Regions from separate parts of the Homo sapiens genome. Here region 2 is linked to region 1. Evidence: fine-mapped expression QTL. A gene starts in region 1. The other region holds a variant in brackets. All regions are shown on one strand. Distances are from middle to middle. Region 1 holds the start of FLNA (filamin A). Region 2 overlaps FLNA (filamin A).

What was found.
Region 2: its variant is fine-mapped to the expression of FLNA in whole blood (TOPMed, PIP above 0.99).

What each region holds. Positions count from the first base shown.
Region 1 is chrX:154,368,607-154,379,087 of GRCh38, forward strand. FLNA (filamin A) reads right to left here and starts at 6,028. Exons shown (of 48, transcript NM_001110556.2): 1 at 5,900-6,028; 2 at 2,267-2,755. The coding sequence starts at 2,639. RefSeq lists enhancers at 1-300, 240-379, 2,409-2,934, 2,940-3,581, 4,766-4,815 and 1 more and silencers at 1,840-2,139, 2,560-2,619, 2,710-2,759, 2,810-2,909, 3,000-3,129 and 8 more.
Region 2 is chrX:154,341,166-154,356,742 of GRCh38, forward strand. It overlaps FLNA (filamin A), which reads right to left. Exons shown (of 48, transcript NM_001110556.2): 31 at 13,660-13,907; 32 at 13,451-13,546; 33 at 13,216-13,318; 34 at 12,986-13,126; 35 at 12,750-12,878; 36 at 12,389-12,562; 37 at 12,131-12,292; 38 at 11,836-12,039; 39 at 11,607-11,759; 40 at 11,388-11,510; 41 at 11,016-11,282; 42 at 10,719-10,856; 43 at 10,416-10,531; 44 at 9,744-9,876; 4 more. The coding sequence ends at 7,684. Among named protein-coding and RNA genes, the nearest start is that of FLNA, 26 kb to the right of the region's middle. RefSeq lists enhancers at 6,329-6,468, 6,499-6,588. The variant A/G (reference allele first, on the strand shown) is at 9,915.

The sequences.
Region 1 (10,481 bases):
GGGTGGGTGGGGTGAGGCAGGGGAAGTGGGGGAGTTGGGCAAACGCCCTTTGGGTGAGGGATTGTGACCCCCGCCACCACCCCCACTTCCTCTACCACCTCGAAGACTCAAGCTTGGAGTTGGGAGGCCACAGGCCTAGCCAGGGGAGGGGCCCAGAGCCCAAAGGAACCAGCAGTTGGGCCACATGGCCCTGACTCACTGGGGCCCATCGGGAGATGCCGGGGTGGCAGCAGGAGACACTGGGAACCCCCTTGCCACCCACTGCCTGACCCACTTGCCACCTAACGGGCCTCTGGGCCTCGGCAGGCTCGCCACAGGGGAAGTGGTTAGGGCGGGTCCCTGACACCCCCCATCACCATGGCAACCCTGCTGGGCTCTGGGCCCCACCCAAGGCTACTTCTGGGTCTCAGGCTCAAGGCAGGATGGCTCATCTTTAGAAGCCCTGTCAGCCTCCCCCATAATCAGACAAAATACTTCTCTGGTGAGTCAACTAGGGGGCGGGCCTATGAGGAGGGGCTGGGCTGTCCATGGCAGCTGCTTCCCAGCCCAGCAGGCAGCACCTGGAGGGCCAGGTGAGCCGCTCAGAGTGGCCTCCCCAGTTCCCAGGTTGGTCCTGGCCCCACGAGGCTGCCTTTCACTCTCCCCAAATGGCAGCAGGGAGGGGGACTCGGAGAGGACCAAGGGTGCAGGGCCAGGGAACAAGGCCAGCCAGGGCTTCCCATCAGGCCCCCACCCCAGTCCAGCCTCAGACCCCTCAACGACCCCCACACGGGGAGCAACCAGGCCCACCAGGTCCATGTTAGGCCAGCCTACTCCGTCCCCATCCCCCTCCCAAAAGAGAGAGGGAAGGACCAGGGCCCAGGGCTGGGAGACTGTCTGGCTGGATGGCCCCGCCCCATCCCACCCCCCTTTCCCCAGCCCCTGGGCCAGCCAACCCCTCCCTCCCCTAATCACTGCTGCTTTCCAACATTTTTTTGCCTTATATGGCAAAGCTCTGGGAACTAGGCCTGCTCCAGCCAGCTCACAAGGAGGAGGGGAGCTGGGAGGAGGGAGGAGACCCCCCCTAAAGAGCTGGGGTGTGGCCCGCCTCCCCACATCCGGTCGCCCCCCCTACCATCCAGGACTGAGATGACTCAGCTTGGCTAGACTGAGGCTGGGACTTGTGGGGGTGGGCCTGCCCCTCGCCTCAACTGGCATTCCAAAGAAAGAACTTTGGTTCTTGGGATCTGCCCTCTGAGTGGCTGGGGGAACCCAAGTCTTGGTCCCTCACTTTCTTGGGTTCAGCAAGGGCCATTCCAGGGCTGCAGGGTAACTGGAAGGCCTCTCAATTCTGAAGAAGAGAAGACTCATCATCCCTCTCCTCTCCCTGTTCCACATCACCCCCGAGTCACCCATTCTGGGGCCTGCCCTCTCATGCAGCCCCTATCTTGAGAACGAATTGGGCTGCTGCAGCAGGCCTGGTCAATGCCAGCCTCTCCAGTCCAGTGACACAGACACTGGGCTGGCACAATGCACGCTGGAGCATCTACCAACCAACTCCTGCGTGCTACACGCAGAAAAGCAAGGCCTACATGGAAGCAAGAGTTTGGCCCAAGATGAAGAGAAAAGTTGGCGTCCAAGTAGTCTACAAGCCAGGTCTCTCAGTCAACCACGCCCAACTCACCCCGGGTGCAGTTTTGCTAACTATGCTTCTTTCTGGCCCCCAGGTTGCCTGTGTGTGTGTGGGGGGGTAGATCTAAACTGGTGGTTGGAGCCATCTCCGATGGGCGACCCATCCTCCAGGGACACAAAGAGCCCAGAGCCCCAGACAATGGGACGCACGAGCTCCAACCCACACTTCAGAACCAACGGGCCTCTGAAGGCCAGAGGGCCCTCTCTAAACAGCTGTGGGGGGAGAGCCCGGGCCTCCTCCTCCTCGGGGACGGGGCGCAGGGCCAGGAGCCTGCCCAGTGCCCGACCCCCCAGGCCCACTCCCACCGCGAGCACAGCCGCGGAGGCGCGGCCTGCGGAGGATGTGAGTTCAGCCTGGGCGCCGGCCAGCCGGGGCGCAGCGGGCGGGGGCGCGTAGCGGTTCGCACGCCCGGCCGGCCAGCCAGCCAGCCCGCGCGCCTTTGTTCTGCAGGCCCGCGTGGAGCAGAGCAGCCGGAGGCCTCGGGAGTTGCGCTGCGGCCCGGAAGGGGGTGGTTTGGAGGGGTCCGCCCGGGGAGATGGAAGGACGCACGGAGTCCCCGCCCCCGCCCGCCCGGCGCTTCGGGGCGTCCCTCACCGATGGACACCAGTTTGATGCTCTCGCGGTCCAGGAACTCGAGCGCCACCGACACGTTCTCAAGCTGCATTTGGCGGAAAGTGGGCCGCTGGTTGTGCTTGCGGTGCATCTTCTTCTGGCTGAGCACCTCCAACAGCGCGATAAGCCGCAGCCCGTCGCTCAGGTCCGTCTGCAGGTTGGCGATGCGCTTGCTCACGCACTTCAGGTGCTCGTTGCACCAGCGCGTGAAAGTGTTCTGCTGGATCTTCTTCCACGGCGCGTCCTCCGCCAGGTCCTTCTCGGTGGCCGGCATCTCGGCGTCCCGCGTGTCGACGCCGCCGCCCGGAGCCGCGCCTGCTGCGCTCTGGCCCGCCCGAGAGTGGGAGCTACTCATTTTGAGGCGCGAGAAGCCGGGGGGGCGGTGCTGCAGCCTCGGCGAGGGGACGGCCCTTTAATTAAAGTCGCAGGCACCTAGGCGCGCGGGAGGCGAGGCAGGGAGCAGAGGTTGCGCTGCGGAGAGAGCGAGCCCTTTAAATGCGGGAGGAGGGCGGGGCCAGAGGGCGGGCCTCCTGCGGGGAGGGGCCGTGGGGTGGGGCTTCGAGGGCGCGCCTGCCCCACCCCGCCCCGCCCGTTGGAATGCCCCCACTAGGCCCCCGGGTTCGGCTGATCAGACGCGAAACCCGGGCTCCAGGGTGGGTCGCTGGGCAGTGGGGTGGGCAAGGATGCTCCCAGCCCCGCAGCCTCGCGTTGGCGCTGCAGGAAACGCGCCCTAGAGCGAGGAAAGGCTGAGCAGTGTCTGGCGCGGGACTGCTTGGCCTGCAGCCGGCGCGCCTTACAAGGGACTTTCCTTCCCCAGGGCCCCTGCGGGGGGTGGGGTGGCTCTCTTCCCTAAGTCACTTGGGCTCTGCCCCGTCCCTGCACATCCCTACCCCCCGCCGTCATCCCCCTTCCCCGGGCCCCCAGGGCCTAGGGTTCCCCGGCGGCATCCCCGTCCGCCGGCCCGGCAGCGGCGGGAAGGGGCCAACCCTAAGAGCGAACCCCTGGAGAGCGGCAGCCCCGGACCAGGCACTGCCGAGGGCGCTTTGTGTGCTCATCACCTGGGAAGCGGCTGCAGGGCAAGGCCTGCGCCTACGCGGTCCCCGCAGACCCCCTGCCACGGGCCCGCCTTCCCAGTCCGTAGGGCCCTCGCCCGCGCACCTGTGCCCGCTGCTTCCCACCGCCTCCCTCTCTGCTTCCCTCCACCCGGGAGGATATGGGGCACTGGGCCAGGAGGCCGCCGGCACTCCAGGAGCAAGCAGCCTTCGAAGGGGTCCGGGCATGCCCACGGGCACGCCAGTGGGCGCGGGCAGAGGGCGCCGTGCGATGCATGCAGAGACGTGTGCCCGCCTAACCCTTCATGCCAGTTCACCCGGGGCACTGGGGGGAGCTGAAGCGGGGGGTCCTCTCCTGTCGGAAAGTCCCCTCAGCCCAGCGTGGCCAGGGCAGGGGGCAAACACGGGAGTGGCATTCCAGACCCAGAGGGGCCTGCTCAGAGGTTCCCATAAGACTTGTCAGGCTCTGAGCACCTGGGTCTGGGTGGGCTTCAGGTGTGGTGGCAGGTGCAGAGGAGGCCTGAGGACAGGGATCAGGGGCCTGGGGGGTTGTGTCCCCAGAGCTGTGGGGGCTCTTCACTCAAAATTTTCTGGTAGATAACTCTGGAGATGGTGCAGTGGCTGCTGTGCCGAGATGTAGACTGGGACCAGGGGACGGCTGGGGACGCTCACTGCTACTATCTTCAGTCAGAAGCCAGCCTGCCTATGGCTTCCTCCCCATTGTGCACTCCCCTCCCTCTCAGTCCTCGGTACCTCCCCTCTCCAGAATGTTTCCTCCTCTGAGTGTTTTTTTTTTTTTTCTAGGAAGGCAGGTATCTGTCCCTCCTGTTCAATTCTAGTAATAATTAATTTATCTGCTAAAGACCAGTGAGAGATGGAGGCCCTGGGTTGGCCAGCACGTCATGCCCAAATATGGTTGACTCTCCTGTAGCCCTGGGTGTCTACATGACACGTGGTGGGGCTGTGATCCGCCCAGCACATTCACTTCGGGGCAGCCTGTGGCCCCACTGGTTTTTCCCACTAGTAGTGGTGTTAGGGGGTGCAAATGGCATTTTCCAGTACTGAGGCCAACCCCTGTATATTGTCCCCTCTCCTGACCACTTTGAGACACACCTGCACCAAGTGCGCCTGGGCGTCTGGGAGCTGGGGTGGAGGTGGGAGGGAGGGCTGGGAAGGGGGAACCCATACAGACCCCTCCCTGCACGGGCCCCATTCAAGACGGGCTTGAAGTTGTCCTTCTGGTCCCCCTGCCCCACTGGAAAGCAAGTTCCCAGGCACGGAATTCCATCAATAATTGACTCTCTCTCCACTAAGGGCCATTGAGCTGGGTTGTCTGGGTTCATTCCTTAATCTTCAGAGCTCAGGGAAACTGAGTCAGAGTGACCAGTGGTCAATTCCAGCAGAAAGAGTGTCAGGAGGTGGGTGCCGTGTCTTCCAGCCCTAGCTTTTCCCTATTTAGAGGAAACAAGGAATGGGCGTGTAGAGGGTTCTTGTCCCTAGAACATAGTATCAACCGCCAGATGTCGCCCGATCCCAAAGCCACCAGATCGGGCAGTCCTGGGAAGCCAAAATCCAGCTCTTTCATATTTTCCCTTATTTGGAGTAGATTCTTGGATGTTAGGCACACCCCGCCCACCACACCACCCCTGGCCCTCAGACCCCAGGCCAGACCCTCCCACTGGGAGGTATAGCCCAAGCCCAGGAGCTGTTCAGCTGGGATCCCTAAGGAGCTGTTTCCAGGCCTGCGTAGCCAGGGGGCGCAGGAGGGAAGGAAGCCGCAGACTGGCAAGGTGAGAAGAGACCTGTGCTGGCAAGTCCAGGTGCGGCAGGTGAGGTCGCCCATTCCCAAGCTCCCACCTTGACGGTGCACTCGGAGCACTTACAAATGGGTCTGCCAGTGGATTTTAACCTATTTTGCCTGGCCCCAGGTGGCACGGGAATCTGGGGACATTGTTGGTTATATCCTGGCTGGCAGTGCGCATCCAACTCAGAGCCAACCTGGCATAGGGCCCAGGGCCCAACCAAGGAACCTGGCCTGGTCTCATCCTCACCATGGCCCCCATGGAGTAGAGCAGCCCCAGAACCAGCTCCCCTGTGCCCAAAGCAGCTGGTGCCCTGTGGACTCGAGCCAGCAAGGGACACGCTGTCCCCCTCCCAGTGGGCACACTGGCTGAGAAGTGTCCTTCCAGGTGGCCACTCGCCCTGAGTCCACACAAGTTCCTGGTGTCAGGGCCCTTCTCTCTCAGGCATGCAGTGGTCCGTTCATGGGCAAGTGCCCAGACACCCTCTCTCTCTCGGGGACCCCCCATGGCCTCAGGCTCCCACATTCGTGGGCACAGACATGGCTCGTGGGTCAACTAGGGAAGCTATTCTCTGGACACTCACTCCCAGATGCCAGGGGAGCCTCCATCGGCTCACGCATCCCAGCTGAACCTGGCCCGGACCTGGGCGCGAGCTGGCGCCTGCGTTTTCCGGCCTCTCTGCCCGCCTTCTCCAACCCCGCCCCCGGCCGACGAGGAGCGCGGCGACCCTACGGCGCGAAGCCGGGCCGCGGAGACCTCACCTGCTGTTCCTGAGAGCGACCGGTGACCGATGACCGCGGGGTGGCGCCCGGATCGCCTTCGCGCCCGCGCCCGCGCCAGGCGCCTCGGGGATTCTGTCGGCGTCCGCTGCGCGCGACGCGCCTCCACGCGAATGGGCCGCCGCCGCCCGCCTTCTTGTTGGCCGCACCCCCGCCCCGCGCCCGCCCCGCGCCCGGCCCGGCCCGGCGAGAAAGCCTTAATTGGTAAAATTGCCCAGGAGCCCGGGACGGGTGCGTGGGGGGCGGGGGTGCGGGGGCACGCCGTGAGCTCCAGCGACCCGCCGCCGGGCGACGCCGCCCCCCGAGATGAGCTCACCGCCGGCGAGGGCCGCCAGGCCCTGGGGGAGGGAGGGCTTCGTGGGGGAGTCGCCTCCAGCGCCCACAGGGACTGCAGGGCTCGTGTCTAGGCCCAATCACAAGGATCCTGCGTGTCTGAGTCTGGGGGAGCCAAGCGCACCCCAGGTGGAAAGGCCGAGGCCCAAGGCCACCTTCTCCAAGGAGCCACCCACAGTCACAGCCCCTGGTGTCTGTCCCAAGCCGGGATTGTTTCCTGGGGTGGGGGCAACAGGTCGTTGCAGGTGTTGGCTGGGCGCCTACGTCAGGCAGGGCCCCGGGACGGGACTGCAGGGCTCCGAGCCCTGGGATGAACCTGACTGCCATGGATCAGGCGCTGCCAGGTCTGGCCTGGGGTGGGCAGCAGAAACAGGATCGCTCAGGGGGACGAGAAAGTTAAGTTTGTTTAGTATTAAGAAGATTCTGATCTTAAAGAAAACATTGGCCGGGCATGGTGGCTCATGCCTATAATCCTAGCACTGTGGGAAGCTGAGGCAGGTGGATTAATTGAGCCCGGGAGTTTGAGACCAACCTGGGCAACACAGCAAGACACTATCTCTACCAAAAATATAAAAATTAGCTGGGCGTGGTGACGTGCACCGGTAGTCTCAGCTGCTCAGGAGACAGATGGGAGGATCGTTTAAGCCCGGGAGTTTGAGGCTGCAGTGAGCTATAATTTCACCACTACACTCCAGCCTGGGTCACACAGTGAAACCCTGTCACTAAACATAAAAAAAAAGGCCAGGTGCGGTGGTTCATGCCTGTAATCCCAGCACTTTGGGAGGCCGAAGTGGGTGGATCACGAGGTCAGGAGTTCAAGAACAGCCTGGCCAAGATGGTGAAACCCCGTCTCTACTAAAAATATAAAAACTAGCCGGGCGCAGTGGCAGGCGCCTGTAATCCCAGCTACTCGGGAGGCTGAGGCGGGAAAATCGCGTGAACCCGGGCGGCAGAGGTTGCAGTGAGCCGAGATCACGTCACTGCACTCCAACCTGGGTGATAGAGACTCCGTCTCAAAAAAAAAAAAAAAAAAAAAAAAAAAGGCCGGGCGTGGTGGATCCCAGCACTTTGGGAGGCTGAGGCAGGTGGATCACGAGGTCAGGAGTTTGAGACCAGCCTGGTCAACACAGTGAAACCCGGTCTCTACTAAAAATACAAAAATTAGCTGGGCGTGGTGGCAGGCGCCTGTAATCCCAGCTACTCGGGAGGCTGAGACAGGAGAATCGCGTGAACCTGGGAGGCGGAGGTTGCAGTGAGCTGAGATTGCGCCACTGCACTCCAGCCTGGGTGATAGAGCTAGACTGTGTCTTGGAAAAAAATAATAAATATAAAAATAAAAATACAAATAAAAAAATAACGTTAACAGCTCAGTGAACAATCATCTACTTGTCATAGACACTGAGGAATGTTTCCATGTTGATATTTTTTCCTCGTAACTCAATCATGTTGGGATTGTAAGTTATACAGCATATACTGCTTGCAAGCCATTCCATCCTTAAGGAGCAACTCAGTTTTCTTATTCTTGACTTAGAATTGGTTGCATCCCGATGTCTCCTCTGCCTGCACTTCCCAGGAAGAACCCCCTGAGGCCCTCAGATTTTCCTGCACACGCCCTTCCCAGACCCTCTGATGACTGCAAATCCCACCCTACCCTTGACGGGAAACTCTCTGAGGCTGTCCAGGTCATCACCCCCAGGGACCAGGTACTGGTGGGGGAATGTTCCATGAATTAATTGCTGTACTCAGGGCTCTTGGACAAGTCTCCCCTGATCGCAGGGTCCTGACTCTCCCTGTATAAGATGGAGGCTCTGCTGCTCAGGAGCCTGCCTGGCTTCCAGTGGTCTGGAGTGGAGCTGCACTGCAATGGGGCTGGACTTAGGCTCCAGGTACCCACAGGGTGGGTGCAGGGGGACCATCACAGTTCAGCTTCCTGGTGCCATCTGTGGTGGGACCTGATTGTGGGGCAAAGGGGTGGGACATAAAAGGCAGAGTGTCGAGGCAGGTACAGAACGGGTGGGGGGTGCTCCTTAGGGAGAAGGCAAATCTAGAATTCCTTGACCTCATAAGGAAACAGCTTGGATCCGTATGGGGAGGGGTGGCATGGGGGAGGATGGAGCAGCACTTAGTACACAGAGGCCTCTGGGAGAGGGGCCAGGATTGCAGAAGGCTTGCAGAGGTGCTGGGGAATCTGATTTTGTCAAAACTAAAAAATCCACAAGGCAGCCTCTGAGCAGCCCAGAGTCCAAACTGCCATCTGTCCCCTCAGCTCTGAAAGATGAGGTGCAAACCCCTGCCCTACCCAAGGCTCTCCTGCTGCACACTGCCAGGCACTGTCTTCATGGACCCACACTTCCTTCCATATTGCTGGGGACACAGTGGGGCCTTGCCAACAGTGATTCCTCTTTGTTAGGATCTTTGCGTGTAGTCAAAACAGGGCCCCATCTCCTCATTACTCCCCCAGGTGTCTACCTCTTCCCACCCCATGGGCAAACCTCCATGGATGACTGGTCTGTGACCCTCACCAGCCAGGCCAGCCATTCTGGACATGACCAGAGCCCTCCCCTCTTCTTCCCTTGTCACCAGCCCTCAACTGTGAAACTACAGATGGCATGTCACCTCTTCATGCTCCCAGTTTGGGGCCTACCCAGTGAGGGGCACACTAGTTGATTCCATACACCCTCAGCTGGCTTTGTTTAGAATGTGAATGTCACAGCCAGGCGCGGTGGCTTATGCCTGTAATCCCAGCACTTTGGGAGGCCGAGCCGGACTGATCACTTGAGGTCAGGAGTTCGAGACCAGCCTGGCCAACATGGTGAAATCCTGTTTCTACTAAAAATACAAATACTAAATACTAAAAATACAAAGCCAGGCATGGTGGCATGTGACTGTACTCCCAGCTACTCGGGAGGCTGAGACAGGAGAATCACTTGAACCCGGGAGGTGGAGGCTACAGAGAGCCAAGATTGCACCACTGCACTCCAGCCTGGGTGACAGAGCGAGACTGTCTCAAAAAAAAAAAAAAAAAAAAAAGAATATGAATGATGAATGTCACCTCCTTTCTCTTCTCCATGAGACAGCCAATATCTGATCAAGGCCCTGGGAATGGGAATCCATAGCTCGCCACCCACGTCTGCCCCCTGCCTAGCCACGCTGCGCTCAGGGACCATTCCGACAGGAGAGGACGCCCCACTTCAGCTCCCCCCAGTGCCCCGGGTGAATGAACGGCATGAAGGGTTAGGCGGGCACACGTCGTCTCTGCACGCATCGCACGGCGCCCTCTGCCCGCGCCCACTGGCGTGCCCGTCGGCATGCCCGGGCCCCTTCGAAGACTGCTTGCTTCTGGAGTGCCAGCGGCCTCCTGGCCCAGTGCCCCATTTCCTCCCGGGTGGAGCGAGGGAGGAGGAAGGGAAGCAGAGGGGTAGGCGGTGGTAAGCAGCAGGCACATGTGCGCGGGCGAGAGCCCCGCAGACTGGGAAGGCGGGCCCATGGCAGGGGGTCTGCGGGGATCGCGTAGGCGCGGGCCTTGCCCTGCAGCCGCTTCCCGGGCGATGCGCACACAAAGCGCCCTCGGCAGCGCCTGGCCCGGGGCCCGCGCTCTCTTAGGGTCCGGGCCCTTCCCGCCGCTGCTGGGGCGGCCGACCGGGATGCGGCCGGGGAACCCTAGGCTCTGGGGCCCTGGGAAGGGGGACGACGGCGGGGAGTAGGGATGTGCAGGGATCGGGCGAAGCCCAAGCGACTTAGGGACCAGAGCCACCCCAAGCGCCGACTTCGCCCGCTCGCACGTCCCGGGTCCCTCGCGCGCAGGCCCCGCCCCTCTCACCCCGCCGCACGCCACAGGGTGACGTCTGGGCTCCCAGCCGCATCGCCCTGACTCCCGCGCGGGCCCCGCCCCCTGCCGCTAGCCAATCTGTGCGTTTGTGACTTTTGGGCCCGCAGCCCCGCCTGCTCCCACAGCGATACCGGTTTGCATTGCCCTGACTCCCGCGCGGGCCCCGCCCCCTACGCCGCTAGCCAATCCATGCATTAGTGGCGTCCGGGCTCGCAGTACCGCTCGCTCCCACCGCGAGACCTTCTGCTCCGCGCCCGCGCGGGCCCCTCCCCCTCCATCGCTAGCCAATCCCCGTTTTGTGACGTATGGGCTCGCGGCCCCGCTCGCTCCCACCGCGAGACCTTTTGCTCCGCGCCCGCGCGGGCCCCGCCCCCTCCATCACTAGCCAATCCCCGTGCTTGT
Region 2 (15,577 bases), 25 kb before region 1:
AATAAAGCTACACATCCACTTCTACACTTCTGCGTGGACTCGAGCGTTCAAGATGGGCGTGGCAACCCGATGACAGGAAACCCTACACGGGCGTGCTCCCAGCAGGCTCCTCCGTGAGGGCCACCAGCCACGGGAAACCACGACCTTGTCCCTCACCAGCAAAAGCTCAGCCTGCGGCTCCGCGAGCGTGGACCGTTCCGTGGCCATGAGCGGGAAGAACCACGGGCCCCCGCCAGGGGCTGGGATGGATCTCGCGGGCGGGAGGCGGAGGGTACTCGGCCCACCCCAGCGGAGGACACCGCGTGGGTCCGCTGAGATAACGCTCCGCGGTGATGGACTCCATGACTCCCGGAGCAGAGCCCTGGCTGCGCTGCACCGCGGGAGGGAGGGGCTGCGTCTACTGCGGGGCCACGAGAGGGAGGGGCCGGGGCCGGGGCCGGGGCCGGGGCCGGGGCCGGGGCGGGACAGGAACCCGCGCAAGCGCGGAAATGCCCACGGCCGCGCCCTCCCGCGCGCACCGCGGCGACACCCGGGCCGCCCTCGGAAGGCACGGACGTCGCGCCGCGCTCCCGGGGCGCTTCACTTGCGCCCACGGCCGACGCCCCGGCAGCGGCGGGCAGGTGCCACGACCTCTGGACGTTTGTCGCCCCTTCTCGGGAATGGAACGCTTAGAGAAGCGCAGGTCCACACCCAAAACACAAGGCGGCACTGTTGCGTGTGCACCGGCGACTCTGCGGCCAGCGCCCTGGGTCTCGCCCCGGGAACGCCTAGGAGCCTGAGAGCGCCGCGCCACACCCGGCAGGGCCGCAGCGGCGCGCACGCGACGGGGTGTCGTCCACTGGGCAGCAGGAGCGTCAGTCAAGGGCGAGGGGCGGGAATTCCGTGCAATCTGAGCATGGTCATTGGCGAGGACAGGCGAAGAGGAGGACGGATAGGCGGGGCTGGGCGGGGCTTCCCGTGGGCGCCTGGAGCTTACCAGGAGCGACCGAAGCGGAGGCGGGGAGCGAGGCAGCTGTGGGCCCCGGCGGGCGGAGACTAGGGCTGTCCCTCCACGCCCCGCCCCCGCCTCGGCACCGCCTTCCGCGCCTGCGAGTCCTGGGCCGGCCCTGCGGGGCATGCGCCGAGTCCCCTTCCTTTGCAGACCGGTGGTCACTGTCTTCCCCCGGGGACGAGGCGGACAGGCGTCGCCTGAGATCAGGGCCCGGGAAGCCCCGTGAGCCGCTCTCGCCTCGGCGCCGTCGAGGGGCCGCCCCGCCCTTCCCACTCCACTGTGCTGCGAAAGTGCCTCGGGGCGCGTCTGGGGGGTCGTGGGGAAGCAGGGCCGCGCCCACCCGGCAGCGTCCAGGGAGAGGTGGGCAGAGCGGGGCGGGCGGCCGTCTTGGGGGAAGTGGCGTCTGGAGGTGTCTGTGCACCATTCCGCGGTGGCGCGCGGTGGGGTAACAAAGTCTTCCCCGTCCCTTGACAGCGGCGGCCGCCGGGGAGGGAATCCTGCTCTGCTGCGGGCGGTCGTGGGCTGGGGCGCTTCCTGGCCTGACTGTCTCCTGGGGGAGGTAGGAAAGGCGAGCCCCGCAGAGAAGGCGGTGGCTTCCCTCGACGTGGGTGCCAACAGGAGCCATCCCTCCAGCCGGTCTTCCCGCGGGAGGGTGCCTGGGAACACCCGCAGGGCTGGTTCCAGCACCCATGGGACCGCTGGGTCCAGCCCAGTGTTTCCGGGGAAGCCCCGCCTTACCCGCCAACCTTCCCGCACCGGGAGGGTTCCCAGCTGCTGGTGATGCTGCTCAGGCGACTCCCCGCAGCGCCACCACCCACCCCCCCGGGAGCCGGCCGCTGGGTTTGGCCCGTCCGCCCTGGTTCCTCTTTGCTGGGCTCTGAGGCCCGGCGGGACTTCTCCGCGGCGGCTCTGGCGACCCAGCATCTCTTTGCCCTGGGGTCAGACGGGCTCCCAAGGAATTGCATCCCGGTGGAGAAGACGCTTCCTTCCCTCTCCCTTCCTCTCCTCCGCCCCCTTTTGCTCTCTTGTCCTTGCACTTTGCCTTGTCCGTGTGTCCGGCTCTGTGTGTGTGTGACTGACGCGAGCCCTTAGTCACCTCTTGCTACTATTTTCTCCCCTTATTATCACTTGTCTCTTGACTGTGTGGTTTGCGGGTTGTGCTTGGTCACAGAGGGGATTTTAGTTTTCGTGTCATCAGAATCTCCAGGCTTTCCTGATGGCTTCTGGGGGTTCTTGTCGGTTTGTTTCCTTCTGGCTCACGCCGTGTCTTGCCCCCTGGACGCTGGGCACCAGTTCCGACTACTGGGTAACAGACGACTTCACGTTTCGGTCCTTCCCCACCTAGCACTCGTCTCACCCCCCCAGCACTCGTGTCACCCCCCCAAGGGTTCTGAGGGACAGGCTCTGGGAGGGCTCTCGGGGAGCCAGGACTGTGGCTCAGGGTCCCTCTCAGGCTGCGGTCAGGTGTCCACTGGGGCCCAGCCATCCTATCTGACTGGGTGGGGAGCCCTCGTGATGACTCTCCCTCTGGAGGCTGTGGCAGGAGGCCTCAGTTCCTCCCCACCGGGCCTCCTCCCCAGGGCTGCTGGGCTTCCCCCGGACCTGCAATCCAGTCGAACCAGCAGGAGAGGGCGCCCCAGACCCGGCCACAGTCTCTTCATGGCCTGGTCTCCTAAGTGACTCGCCTCGCCTCCGCTGTGGTTTTTATTGGTCTCACAGGTCCACCCTGGCGCGTGCTGGAGAGGGCGCCACGCTCAGGGTGGAGGCTGTTCCTGAGTGCTGCGAGTCAGAAGCACCCTTGCACGTGTAGACCTGCGTCGGCTGCTGGAGATCCCGAGCGGGCCGCCTCAGGAACATGTCCTTGGTGTCAGCGGGAGCAGCAGGCCACCTCCTGGGGCTGACACTGGCCGGGGCCTGCATTTCTGAGGGCGGGGCGTGCTTTGACATCCTGAAAGGGTTGCAAAACCCATCACAGAGAACCCCAAGAAGGGAGACTCTGCCACCGAGACCCCGTGTGCCCCGCAGGGTCTGCGCCGTGTGCTCTCTGGCTCTTCATGGAAGCCTTTCCCAGCCCTGGTCGGGGAGCCCCGGTCCAACATCCCCAGGAGCCGGTGGGAAGCCCGTTCTGGTCTGCATGGCATGAGTGCCCCACGCCAGCCCGGGTGGCAGGATGTGCCCCCCACCTCCAATGCCCCCCTCCCAGGGGCTCATTCCTGCCCCTGTCCCCTCTCTGCCCCAGGTGGGGCAGCCTCTCTCTGCAGACAGGGGAGGCCTCTCCTCCCCGCATGCAGCCCTGAAGGGGAGGGGCCGGGGCAGGGAGGGGGTGTGCCGCGTCGTCATGGTGAAGGCAGAGCAGCTCCTTTTCTCCGTGATGTGTCAGGTTGCCGGATACTGGGCTCCGGTCCCTGGCCTGGAGGGTGGGATGTGGAGGGCCAGGTGGGTCCTGGAAGGAGCTTTCCACTGGGGCCCCAGGAAGACCTTGGTGTCTCGTTTCCCTGGAGACGTGCCCCATCCTTCCCACTGGGACTGGCAAGTGACTTGCTGATGACGCTCTCCGTGGCTCTGAGTTTGTCACAGAGGTTCCGTGGGCGGTGAGTGCTTTTCCTGTTGGCCCGCGCCGCCTCTGGGCAATGCGGGGGCCCTTGGTGACAGCTCCTGGCCCCTTCCAAAGCCGCCTGGCCCTTCTTGAACCCGACGAGAGCAGGTTGCCGGGCCTTCCCTGAGGAATGTGTTCCTGGCAAGTGGGGACAGCCCCTCCCCCAGGGTGTCGGGTACAGGGTCCTGGGGTGCTTCAGGACACGGTCAGGCCCACCGACCCCCCACACTCCTGGGCCACCTGCCTGCTGGCTGTCCTCTGTGACCCTCTCTCCCCTGAGCCGAGGTGCCGGCCCGATCCCGCGGGAAGAACAGCGAGGAGGGCCGGCTCTCCCTGCTATGGGGGCCTCGGGGGCCTGGACGGGGACTGTGTCCTCCCTCCCCGGGCTGCCCGGCGCCCTCGCTCAGGGAGTGCTCTCCTAGCGACCTGTTCGGCAGATGGGCACAGCCACGACAGCAGCCAGACCCTGTCCCGGCCCATGCACCCACCTGGACGGATCGGCGCCCTCCTGGACTTACTGGCTCCATTGAGGGTCCCAAAGGAGCTGCCCCAGAGCACCCTAGGGGCGTCCGGACCCCTCGGCCCGCAGCAGCTACCAGCAGCCCAGGCAGGACCCAGGGGCTTCCGGGCACAGAGGCGCCGCTCCCTGGCTCGTGAGCCCAGGGCCTCTCCAGCCGTCCCCTGTTGGGGGCCTCCACTCCTGCTCTGGATCAAGGTCCTGCCCCTAGGGAGAGCTGGTGCCTTCGGGGGAGCGGGCCCTGGTTGCAGTTGGAGAGTGGGTCCAGGGATGGTGTTCTGCTTGGCTGCCGCCCTGCCTCCTGGGGGCCTCCCCAGATCCCCCCCGGCTGCTGTCAGCTGGGGCTGAGGGGTCCTGTGGCCTAGGGGGCATCCTGGTTCGGGAGTGCCCTGCCCTGGACACCGTGTCCAGGAAGGATACATGCTCACCCTTTGTTGGGGGCCAGGCACAGGGTGAGGGGGCACTCGGCCCCACCACCCGTGTCTCTGGGAACCCTGGCTGGGTACGGCCCCTCTTCCGAGAGATCCTGCCCGGGACTGGTGCCGCCTGCCTCGGGCCTGCCCCCCACACAGTTGGGGACCCTGGCGGGGCACCTCCTGCCAGCCACCTGCTGCTGTCCTAGCCTCAGCCGGGCCCTGCAAGCTGTCCATGTGCCTGGGACACCCGGTCCCTCTGCAAATGTTTGCAAACACCCCTGCCCCCACAGGCATGTCTGGGGGCCTCTCTGGGCCTTTGTGTGCCGAGTTGGGCGTGGGTGGCGGCGGGGGTCTTTCCATAGTCACCTACTTCCTGTCCTCCTCGGCCCCAGGTCCAGCGGTGCCCTGTCTGCTCGGTTTCCAGCCTGAGCCCTTTCCTGAGCTGGCCCGGTCCCCTAAGCTTCTGCAGCAGGTTCCCAGGTCCACCCCGAGGGACTCCTGGCCAGTGTTCCCAACAGTGTCTGAGTGCTGGCCTCAGTCCCTGGCCATGGATTTTGGGGAACCCCGCTCTGAGGGGCCGTTGCTTCCCTTTCCTCTCCAGGTCCCCTCCCAGTTTCCTCGGAGAGCGGGGATGGGGCTGTTGGGAGGCGGAAGGGAGGGTTGGGGTGCAGAGGTGTGGCTTGGGGGAGGGAAGGTCAACTGGGCTACCGCCCCTCCCTGCCCTCCCTGGACTCAGTCCAGACACAACCTGCGGGTTGGAGGCCTGTGCACCCTTTATCTCCTCCTAGTAGCCTGGCGGGTCCTCCTGGGTCTTCCTCAGTGTGTGTGAGTCCCCAGGCCATAGGACCCGGCAGGGTGGGGGCCCGTGCTCTGCTCTTGTTTTTGCTCCTACTTGCCCGCCCTTCCCGGGGGGGGCCCTGGCCAGGACCGTGCCAGTCTCTTTCCCTGCTGCCTGCCTGCCTGCCTGGGTGGCCTCCAGCTCACCACCCTGTGAGGCCTGTGGCCTCCCGCCAGGGCTGTCCTCAGGGGCCCGGATCCCCCTAGTTTATCTTCTGCCCTTGCCGCCCCACATGTGTCCCTCCCTGCAGCCTGGGGACGATCGGCAGGTTTGGGGGACCGGTGCCCTTGGTTCACCTAGCCCAGCCCTAGGGCGGTGGCCCTGCCAGGCATGGGGCTTGAGAGGGGATGTGATGGAGCAGACACAGGGAGGGGGCAGGAGACCCTGGGTGACTCGGGACAGGAGGGAGTGCCCCAGAGGTTCAGAATCCTGGGCACACAGTGGGCTGAGCGGACAAGTCGCAGCCTCAGGGGGACCTCCCGTCCTCCCAACTGGCACTGCATCTTTCTGGGCCTGGCTCTGCTGCCTCACAGCCCCGTTCAGCTGGTGGCTTTTAGAGGCTTCCAGAGTGTGCTTGGCCCCTTTACCTCTATGCCATTGGGCCCAGGGGGAGCAGTAGAGTGGCTGCGGCTGGGGGTGGGACTTCCCCTTTCTGTGTCTTGCTTGCCCCGTGTCTCCCAGTGAGTGGCCGCCCTGAGCCTGGGGCCAGCAGCCCAGCCCCAGTGAGAAATAAAAGTAGCCATCCTGCCTGAACTGCCGCTGCCTTTTCTACTTTGCCCTCTCAACAGGGGTCAAGGAGGGTACGCGTGGTGTTGAGGTCTCAGAAGGTCTGGGTTTGACGTGTGCCATGGCTGCAGGCTACGGCCTGGTCGTGTCAGACGCTGTGGAGCTGAGGGAGGATGTGGCGAGAAAGCTGAGCGTTGCCCCCGAGAGCCTTGCTTCCTGGCCCTTGTCTGCAGATGTCTGAGGTGGTGGTGTCCTTGTCAGGGGTTTGATCGAGGGCCAAAGCCTTTGGCCCAGGGAGCAGGCAGCTTTGGGTGCTGCAGTTGGGATGTCCCGATAGCATGCAGGCAGCACCAGGAGCCAGGACGACTTGGGATGTTATGTGTTTGGGGGCAATCTTTACAGTGGGAGACACATAGGTTGGTGTGGGAATCCACGGCAGGGGTACCAATGAGGGGATATTCAGCAGGGGGCCCAGGGTACCTGGGATTGGCACCTTGAATGCATCCACCTCCTGCCACCTGTTAACTAAAGGGCCCTGAGGCCCAGAGCCTGGGGGAGGGGGCCTCATCCCAGTCCCTTGTTTGGGGGAATGGTGGCATGGTGGCATGTTCAAGTTACCTGGCAGATGGCCAGGGCCTGCTGTGATTTTTTTTTTTTTTTTTTTTTGAGACAGAGTCTCGCTCTGTCGCCCAGGCTGGAGGGCAGTGGCGCGATCTCGGCTCACTGCAAGCTCTGTCTCCTGGGTTCGCACCATTCTCCTGCCTCAGCCTCCCGAGTAGCTGGGACTACAGGCGCCCGCCACCACACCTGGCTAATTTTTTGTATTTTTAGTAGAGACGGGGTTTCACCGTGTTAGCCAGGATGGTCTTGATCTCCTGACCTTGTGATCTGCCTGCCTCGGCCTCCCGAAGTGCTGGGATTACAGGCGTGAGCCACCACACCCGGCCGGGCCTGCTGTTGATTATCTGGCCACCTCCACCAGGGAGCCTTCCTGACACCACCCTACCCAGTAATGGGCTCTCCTGCCCAGCTCTTTGCCTCCTTGCTGCCTGGGCTCCATTCCAGGTTGCTACATGTTCCTCTCCTTACGTTGGCTTGAACTCAGGGAGGCAGAGGAAGCAAAGATAGATGGTGCCTTCTGGAGTCAGGGTGGGGTGAAGCAGGAGCCCTGGAGGGAGGTGACCTGTGCTCAGCCCATGCTTTGATCTGCTCATTGGCACCCCTGTCAGGTTGGCCTTGACTGGTCCCCCAACCCCAACAAAGCTACAGCCACGCAAAGGAGAATGGAAGCAAAACTTTATTCCTCTTGGCTGGAGAAGAGAACTAGTGGGTGGTTGTGTACAGGACCCCCATCCCTCACCCCTCCCAGAACCAAAGAAGACAAGCAGCGCCACCAAATGGCTCCCTCTGCCCAAGTGAAAGCCGAGAGGTCAGCGGCTGGCTGGGGAGGCAGGTGAGCGCAGCACGGCACAGGGCAGGGGCGGCTGCAGTGACAGGCGGGCGGCCAGGGCGGCCTGGGCCGGGGTTGAGGGGAAGAGGGCGGGGCTGCTTGGGTAGCGGGGCAGGCTTGGGGGCTGCCGGCTGGCACGGGCCCCAGACTCAGGGCACCACAACGCGGTAGGGGCTGCCTGGGATGTGCTCGTCCCCCCATTTGACCACCAGTGTGTACTCCCCCTTGTCCTTGAGCAGGTAGGACACGCTGTAGAGCCGGCTGCCCACGTGCTTCACCAGGATCTCCTCGCAGGGGGTCCTTGGGCCATGAACCCCCACCAGCAGCATGTTGTTGCCTGAGGCAAGAGGGGTCCTCAGTCCCAGGTCCCAGCCCCCTTCCTCCCGCTGGTGTCCTGCTCTCCTCTCCTGTCCCTAAGCCAGTTCTGGGGTGACAGTTCTCTCTTCCTAAAGAGCTGCCAGCACCTCCCCAACCCAGGCCAGCTTAGCAGATTCCAGCTCCTCCCTGGTCTTTGTTTGAGGGGTCCAGGAGGTGGCAGGGAGGTGGCTCTAGAAGTGAAAGCCACGCCCCAAAGGCGGTCCCTGCTCTCCCAGACACTGGCCATCCTGTGATTTCTGGCCTCATTTTGGTGGGAAGGTGGGCCGGGGGCCCAGGTTGCCCACCTGCTTTGCTGCAGTCTACTGTGAAGCTGCTCTTCTGGCCTACGTAGGCCTTGCTCAGCCCCAGGCCCTTGGCCACCACCTTGCTGGCGTCAGCAGGCCCAGGACCCGGGGCCCCATGCTGGGGGGCACAGGTGGCCTTGGTCAGAGAGTCTACAAACACTGATGATGTCTCGTGGAGGCTGTGGTTGCTGACGAGACGGGGGCCTGCAAGGCAGAGTGGGTGGGGCTAAGAGGTGGCTGTGGTGCCGGGCGTTGGGCAGATGCCAATAGCTTGGCCCCAGGCTCACCTGTGACTTTGGCCTTGAAGGGGCTGCCCCCAATGTGGTAGGGGCCGCCGTACTTGATGGAGATGAGGTAGCTGCCAGGTGCCATGGGGGTATAGGTGACGCGGTAGCCCTCAGGGCACTCCTGGCAATCCATCTTCACCTTGGAGGGGCCGTCAATGGTCACCGACAGGGCACCAGCTCCCGCATTGCTCGTGTTCACGACGAACTCAGCTGGGTTCCCTGGGAGCACAGGAGGTCAGGCAGAGCCAGACTGGCCTGCCTCCCTGTCCTCGGCCACCCAGCACAGGCTTGTCACCTCCAGGTGCCTCCTGTTGTCACCAAGAGCTTGGAGGCAAGGGCCTAGCAGCTGTGTGCACACGTGCAGCCGCACCGACAGACTTACCTGTGACACCGCCTTCCAGACCTGCTCCGTAAGCAGACACCAAGCCTGGGTCCCCTCCATGCCCAGGCTCCCCAACTCGGATCTTGAAGGGGCTTCCAGGGATGTGGGTGCCGTTGAACTTGACGTCAATCAGGTAAACGCCATTCTCCCGAGGGATGAAGCGCACAGCATACTTATCTGAGGAGCAGGGAGTCATGCTGTGGGCCTGGGGCCCCTCCTCAAACCAGCAGATGGTGTCTGTGAGGAACAGCCTCAACCCTGGCCCTCCCCATTTTGCCGGTCCATCAGTGTGAGCCCAGCCACGCTGGGCACCTGCACCCCGCAGCAGACCTCCTGAGGGCCGAAGGTTTAGACACTCAAGCTGCCCACCGTCAGGGTGCATTGGGACGGAAATCTTTTACAAGCCAAACCCAGGCCTTGCTGCCTCCTAAGAAAGGTTACCGTGAACACCATATCCCCTGCATGTTAACAGGCTCAGAGACGGGCAGGAACTTGCTTCAGGTCATGCAGCTGGGAAGGGCAGGACTAGGCCGTGAAATGAAGCCCACTGGGCTCCTCCTACCCACAAGGCTGCCCCAGGCCTGTGCACAAGTACCATGGCCGTGGCTGAAGGGCCGGGCAGCACTGAGGCTGGACTTTGAGTCTTTCCCTGTGGAGATGGCATGGTACTGCAGGGTAGAAGGCCTTCCTAATAGCTGTGGGTGGCGAGCCACATCCCCAGCGGCTTGGGTCACCAATTGGGAAAGGGTTGCCTGGCTTAGGGGGCCCAGGAGTTGGGGCCCCGTCTTGGCTGCTTACAGAAGCGGTACCTTCCTTTTGTACTCTCAGCCTGCTTCCAGCCAGCAGGGCAGGGCGGCCGGGCAGGGACAGGGCCTCACCTTGGTCAATTTCTGTGACATAGCACTCCTCCAGGGCTCCTGAGGGGCTGTGCACCTTGGCATCGATCGCCCCCTTGGCCCCGTTCAGGCTGACTGCAAAAGAGGCTGGCTGGTTGACCTTTAGCCCTGACTCCTGGAAGCACAGCAGACATGGTTAGATGGGGGTGCTTG[A/G]GCCAGGGCAAGGGAGGACGGAAAGGCCCCAGGAGCAAGAGGCCCGCGGGTCGCACTTACCCATCTGGCGTCCAACTTGGTTTAAAGAGGGAGAGCCACTGATTTGCAAGGGGCAGCAAGCCACAGGCGCACATCCCCGCCCCTGCCCCCACACTCTGCCGTCGCACACACCCAGGTGGCAGGAAGGGAGGGCTGCCCCACCCTGTGGGCAGCACCCAGCCTTGGCAGGCTGTCCCTCTTTAAACCGCAGCCCTGGTGCTCAAGGGGCACAGGCTTCTGTTCAAAGCCTTTAGACCTGAGACACGAGAAAAACTCCACGTGGTGGGCAGGATATTTCCTGCCGACCCCAAGCGTGGGCTGCACCCGGCCAGAGCAGAGGCCTGGAACCCAGAGCTGGGCCAGGGGGGTCACTGAACACAGGGCCAAGGCCTGGTCTCTGCGGTGGCTCTGGTCTGTCCGGGCCCAGGAGCCCCAGGTGGGCGGTTTCTCTCGGTGCCTCACCTGAAGGCTAGAAACAGTGAGGCGGCGGGCGTCGCCAGACGGAGAAGCCACAGGCACCACGAAGGGGCTGTCGGGAATGTGTTCCTCGTTGAACTTGACTGAGACTTCGTAGTCACCTGGGCAGGGAAAGAGTGTAAGACCGGCTCATCAGCCTTTGGGCCTCCCACCTCCCACGAACAGCCTGGGTGGCCCTGTGACCTCAAAGTGAAGAGTGAGTGCCAGGCAGGGCTATCTGTGCCAGCCCTGGGTCCAATACCCACACTCAGGCCCCACCTCCTCCAACCCCAGCCGGGTTCCCAGTACCTGGCTCCTGGACCACATAAGCCACACCACAGGAGCCGTCCTTGCGGTCCTCAAAAGAGATCTCAGCCTTGCTGGGGCCCTCGACAGCAATGGCCAGGCCTCCAGCACCAGCTTCCCGGGTCCAGATACTGAATTCGGCTGTGGGAGAACAGTTTGTCCTCACTGAAGGCTGCTTCACCAGCCTCGGCCCCCTCCAGGCATAGCCAAGGTAGACATGCCTGCCGGCTCTTTCCTCCACCCCCAACCCCACCCTGGCCAACGCAGGAGAGCGAGCACTCGGGGTGTGAGCAGGCCTACCTGGCACTCCAGCTTCAGCTCTCTCCAGGCCAGGGCCCCCAGCTCGGACCTTGTGGGCTCCCCCTTCCCCTAGGGGCCCCACGGTGAACTGGAAGGGGCTCCCAGGCACGTGCTGGCCCTTGTACTTCACGCTGACTGTGTGTGTGCCCATCTCAGCGGGAACAAAGCGGATGCAGTAGGTGTGGTTCTCCCCTTCCACGATCTCGGCCTCATGGGTCTTGCCCGATGGGCTGGTCACCTGGGCTGTCATATCCTGGATGCTAATTTCTGCAGGGTGGGGATGGGCTAGTGAGCAGCAGCCCTGGGCTCCACCCCTCCTCTTGGGGCTGCTTGAGCCCCAGGACCCCTCCCCAGGCTTCCCACAGCCCCTACCAGGGATTTTCAGGCTGAGGTCACAATGACTACCAACGTTGGCCACTGAAGGAGCCCGACGCCTGCGGGTGATGCTCTCTTTCACCCGGCCCTCGCCTGTCACCTTCACAGAGAAGGGGCTGCCTGCAGGAAGAAAGCACGGCCCACGCCCCTCCAGTCACATACTGCCTGTGGGCCCTGGTGTAGTGAGGGGGGCTGCCGAGGCACTGCTGCACTCACCAGGCACGTGCTGGTCGGCAAACTTGATGTTGATGATGTAGTTGCCTGGCTCTGTGGGGCAGTAGGTGACCCTGCACGTCCCGTCCTCCAGGTCCTCTGTGTTGATGTCCACCTTGCTGGGGCCCTCAATGGACAGGCTGAGCCCACCATAGCCTAGGGGATGGATACCCCTGAGCCTCGGTGCTATGCACAGTGCTCCCGCCCCAGCTGGTGGGCAGCCACTGCCTACCTGCATCGCGGGTATCAATGATAAACTCTGCAGGCTCAAAGGTGTGGCCTTCGTGAAGGCCCTGACCAGAGACCCGAACACGACTGGCATCCCCAATTTCCGACTGGCTGATCACCACCGGGATGGGGCTGCTGGCCACGTGCTGGCCATTTTTCTTCACATGCACCAGGTGCTCCCCCGTCTCCTTGGGCACGAATGAAATCCCTGGACACAGGGCATGGCTGTCAGTCAGGGAGGGCATGGCTCCCCACAGGCTGCCTCCTTTCTGAACCCCCTGGACCCTTCAGCCGCTTACCCACGTGGCCATTACGCAGCCGCTTCAGCAAACAGGGCTCCTCCCGGCCCGAGGGCGGGACCACAGTGGCCGTCAGCAGGCTGAGATCCGTCTCTGAGATGTTGATGGGGATGTCGGCAGCAGAGCCGACCTTTAGGTGGGACATACGCATGGAGTCGTCACCTGGTGGGGACAGGCCAGCCATCAGTGTGCGTCCAGCCATGGGAGACCATGCCCACCCTGCCACCCGTTTCTGTCACTGCTCCCAGTGCCACCCACCTGTGACCCGAGCAGTGAAGGGGCTGCCTGGGACGTGCTGTTCATTGTACTTGACTAGAATGCTGTAGTCCCCCGGCAGCACAGGCAGGTAGGACACGCTGCATGTCCCATCCTGGTTGTCAGTGCAGCTGATTTCTGCTTTGGACGGGCCCTCAATGGCCAGAGACAGGCCCCCTGGAGAGAGCCGTGGGTGAGCATGGGAACTATGCTGGGGACACTCCAGTTGGCCTGCACTGAGGAGCTCCGATGGCCAGGGCAGCAGGGCAGGGAGCCCCATTCAGGAGTATCTCCTGAGTCCAGCCCTTACCCCGGTGAGGGCATCCCGGGCACAGAGCAGGTCAAGACCAGAGCTATTGCTCACCCTCTCCTGCATCCTTGGTGTTGACGGTGAAGGTGGCAGGCTTGTTCACTACTCCATGGGTGAGGCCAGGCCCATAGGCAGTGACATGGCCACAGTTGACGTAATCCACATAGAACTGCAAGGGGCTTCCTGAGGCAGGAAGAAGGGCCTTGTGGAATGGCAGCCTCGTGTGTCCCCCAGCCCCATCTCTCTGTGAGGTGGTGGCGGTGGAGTGGGCAGAGGCAGGGCAGGCCCACCTGGGATGTGCATGTTGTCATAGCGGATGTCCATCTCGTGCAGGCCAGCCTCGCTGGGTGCATACCGCACGGTCACGGTGCCGTCTTTGTTGTCAGTGATGGTGGGCTGCGCCACCTTGCCTGAGGGCATCCGAACCTCCCCTGTGGGGCAGTGGGGCTGAGGTCAGGGCAGCTCATTGGCACAGTCTGGCCTCCTTGGCTCCCGAGCTCCTTCCCAAGTCCCCACTCACCTGTGATCTCGCCCTTCTTGATGGTGAAGGGGATGACAAGGTCAAAGGGCCTCAGGCTGGTCACATCCAGCCCATTGACACCCACCAGGGGCCTCTCCGGGGCCTGCAGTGGAGACACAGGGCATGGGTGAGGGACAGTGGGAGGATCTGGGGTCCCTCCTCACACATGGTAAACTAGGGGCTCACAGAACACCCAGCTGGCTAGCCCCAGTGTCCCTAGCTGGCCAGGCCGTACCCAAGTCTGCTGGCCGCCCTGGGCGTAGGTGTACTGTGGGGCCAGCTGCTGAGACCGTAGAGGGGGCTGCACCGAGGGCTGGTCCCCAGCCAGAGCCTGCAGGGCAAAGCAGAGAGCTGCTGGAGAGTCTGTTGTCACAGAGGGGCCCCAGGGGAACAGGCCGGGACCTGCCAGACACCCCTGCTGACCTACCCCCCACCCCTCCTCACCGTCACTTGGAAGGGGCTGTTGGGCACGTGCTCGCCACCAAAGCGCACACAGATGACGTATTTGCCCGGCTGGGGGGCCGTGTAGAAGATGTCGAAAGTGCCGTCCTCATTCTCCACCACGTCCACATCCACCTCTGAGCCATCAGGCGTGCACACGGTGCACGTCACTTTGCCTTTGCCTGCCGCCTTAGTGTCCACAGTGATCACCGTCTCCTCCCCAATCTGAATGGTGGGGCCGATGCCAGCACCTGGTGGGGCAGGGTGGGTCCCCAAAGGGGGGCCAGCGTGTGAGCTCGGGTTCAGGTTGTTCCCGTCCGCCTGCCGCCCACACAGGCCTCTCATTGCCACCACCAAGCACAGCCAGGCCGCCAGGCCTCCTGCCCCGCCCTGCCCCTCCAAGCTGGGATGGCGAGTGGTTTCTCAGAAGGCAGGAAGGTTTCTCCTGACCACCTCAAGTGCCCATGTGGGAGAGGCCCGACAGTAGCACCCAGGTGCCTGGGAGGAAAAGGAAGGGCCCACTCCAGCCTAAGTGTTGACAGCCACTCCCTTGCCTACTCAGCCTCGTCCAGCACCATGGCCCACACTGCTGAACGCCAGCATCTGGCTGGGCACACGGCTGCCTGCGCCCTTCTGGCCTGGCCCCGGCCCCCATTGCTGTGTGTGGACGCGGTGAGGCGGAGTCCTGCTGCAGCGTGGGGGGATGTGACACTTGCCTCCCCACCCCCCAGGCCTGATGGTGAAACCGGAGTTTCCTGACAACTGAGAAGGCTCGCGGTGAAAAGCAGCCCGGTGCAGACAGGAGTGGGAGCGGGGAAGCGGGAGGCAGCGGGGTTAGCACCCGAGTAGCGCAGCGCAGCAGGCTTGGCAGAGCGGGGATAGCACCCAGGGAGACAGGGAACAGGAGGCCCAAGCTACAGCCACCACTGCTGGGTTGCGAGGGCAGAGCAGCTGAGCAGGCTCCAGGGCCCCAGAGTGCCCGAGGAAAGGGGAGAGACAGTGACGTTATGATCTGGGTCTCCGCCGTGGAGGCTTGGGGGGCTGTGGGCTGTGAGGCCTGGCAGTGAGAGTGCCCCCTGCAGCCTGGCCTCCTGCCAGGGAAGCAGCCAGGAGCACGAAACCTACTTGAAGGCCAAGCTCGAGGGGCCCTGCCACCAAGTCCCACTATCGGCCGAGGGCTCCTGCTGCACTAGGCTCCATGCTGGCCTGCCGCGGCCAGGCAGCTCTCCCAGGCTCCAGACCTGGCTGCCGGCTGCCCACGCTGCCCTGGGAGGCTTCACTCATGTGCACCCCATGCCATCTAGTTAGTGGCTTGGGCCCCAACCTCACAGGTACCCGACTGCCCCCACTTTCCCTGCCCGGCTCCCAGCCAACCGCAGGTCTCAGCCACTCCATCCTCAAAGTATGCCTCCTAATTTGGCTCTCACTGAAGCCCCGTGGCCGTCAAGCTTGCCAGAGAGCAACTTCAGCGCCCCCTTCCCCACCCCGGGCTCCCTGTCTCCATTCTGCAAACAGTAGCCAGGGAAACTGAGGTTACTGAGTCTTGCTCCCACCCTCAAAGCCCCCAAGGCCCTGCAATCAGTACTCCCCAGCCTCCCCCGCCCTGCGCACACACGCCTGTCACACACACATCGGATCCTACGGCCTGCTCTATAAAGCCATCTCGCTCCTGCCGCAAAACTCTAGCCACCCTCTCACCCTTTCCTTAGCCACCTCGCCCAAGTGCCAGGCCTGTAGCCTCTCATCAGCATCCCTGGGTGTCCCTGGCTGGGGCAGGTGACCCTCCATGCCTGTTGGGGAATGTCTGAATAACGTCACTGCTGGGGGATAGGGGAAGGGGGAAGGAGGGAGACGGGCCACAGAATGCACTTTGGGGCTCTGAGGCTGGGCCGGGCCCCGCCATGCTGGCCGCCCAAGCAGT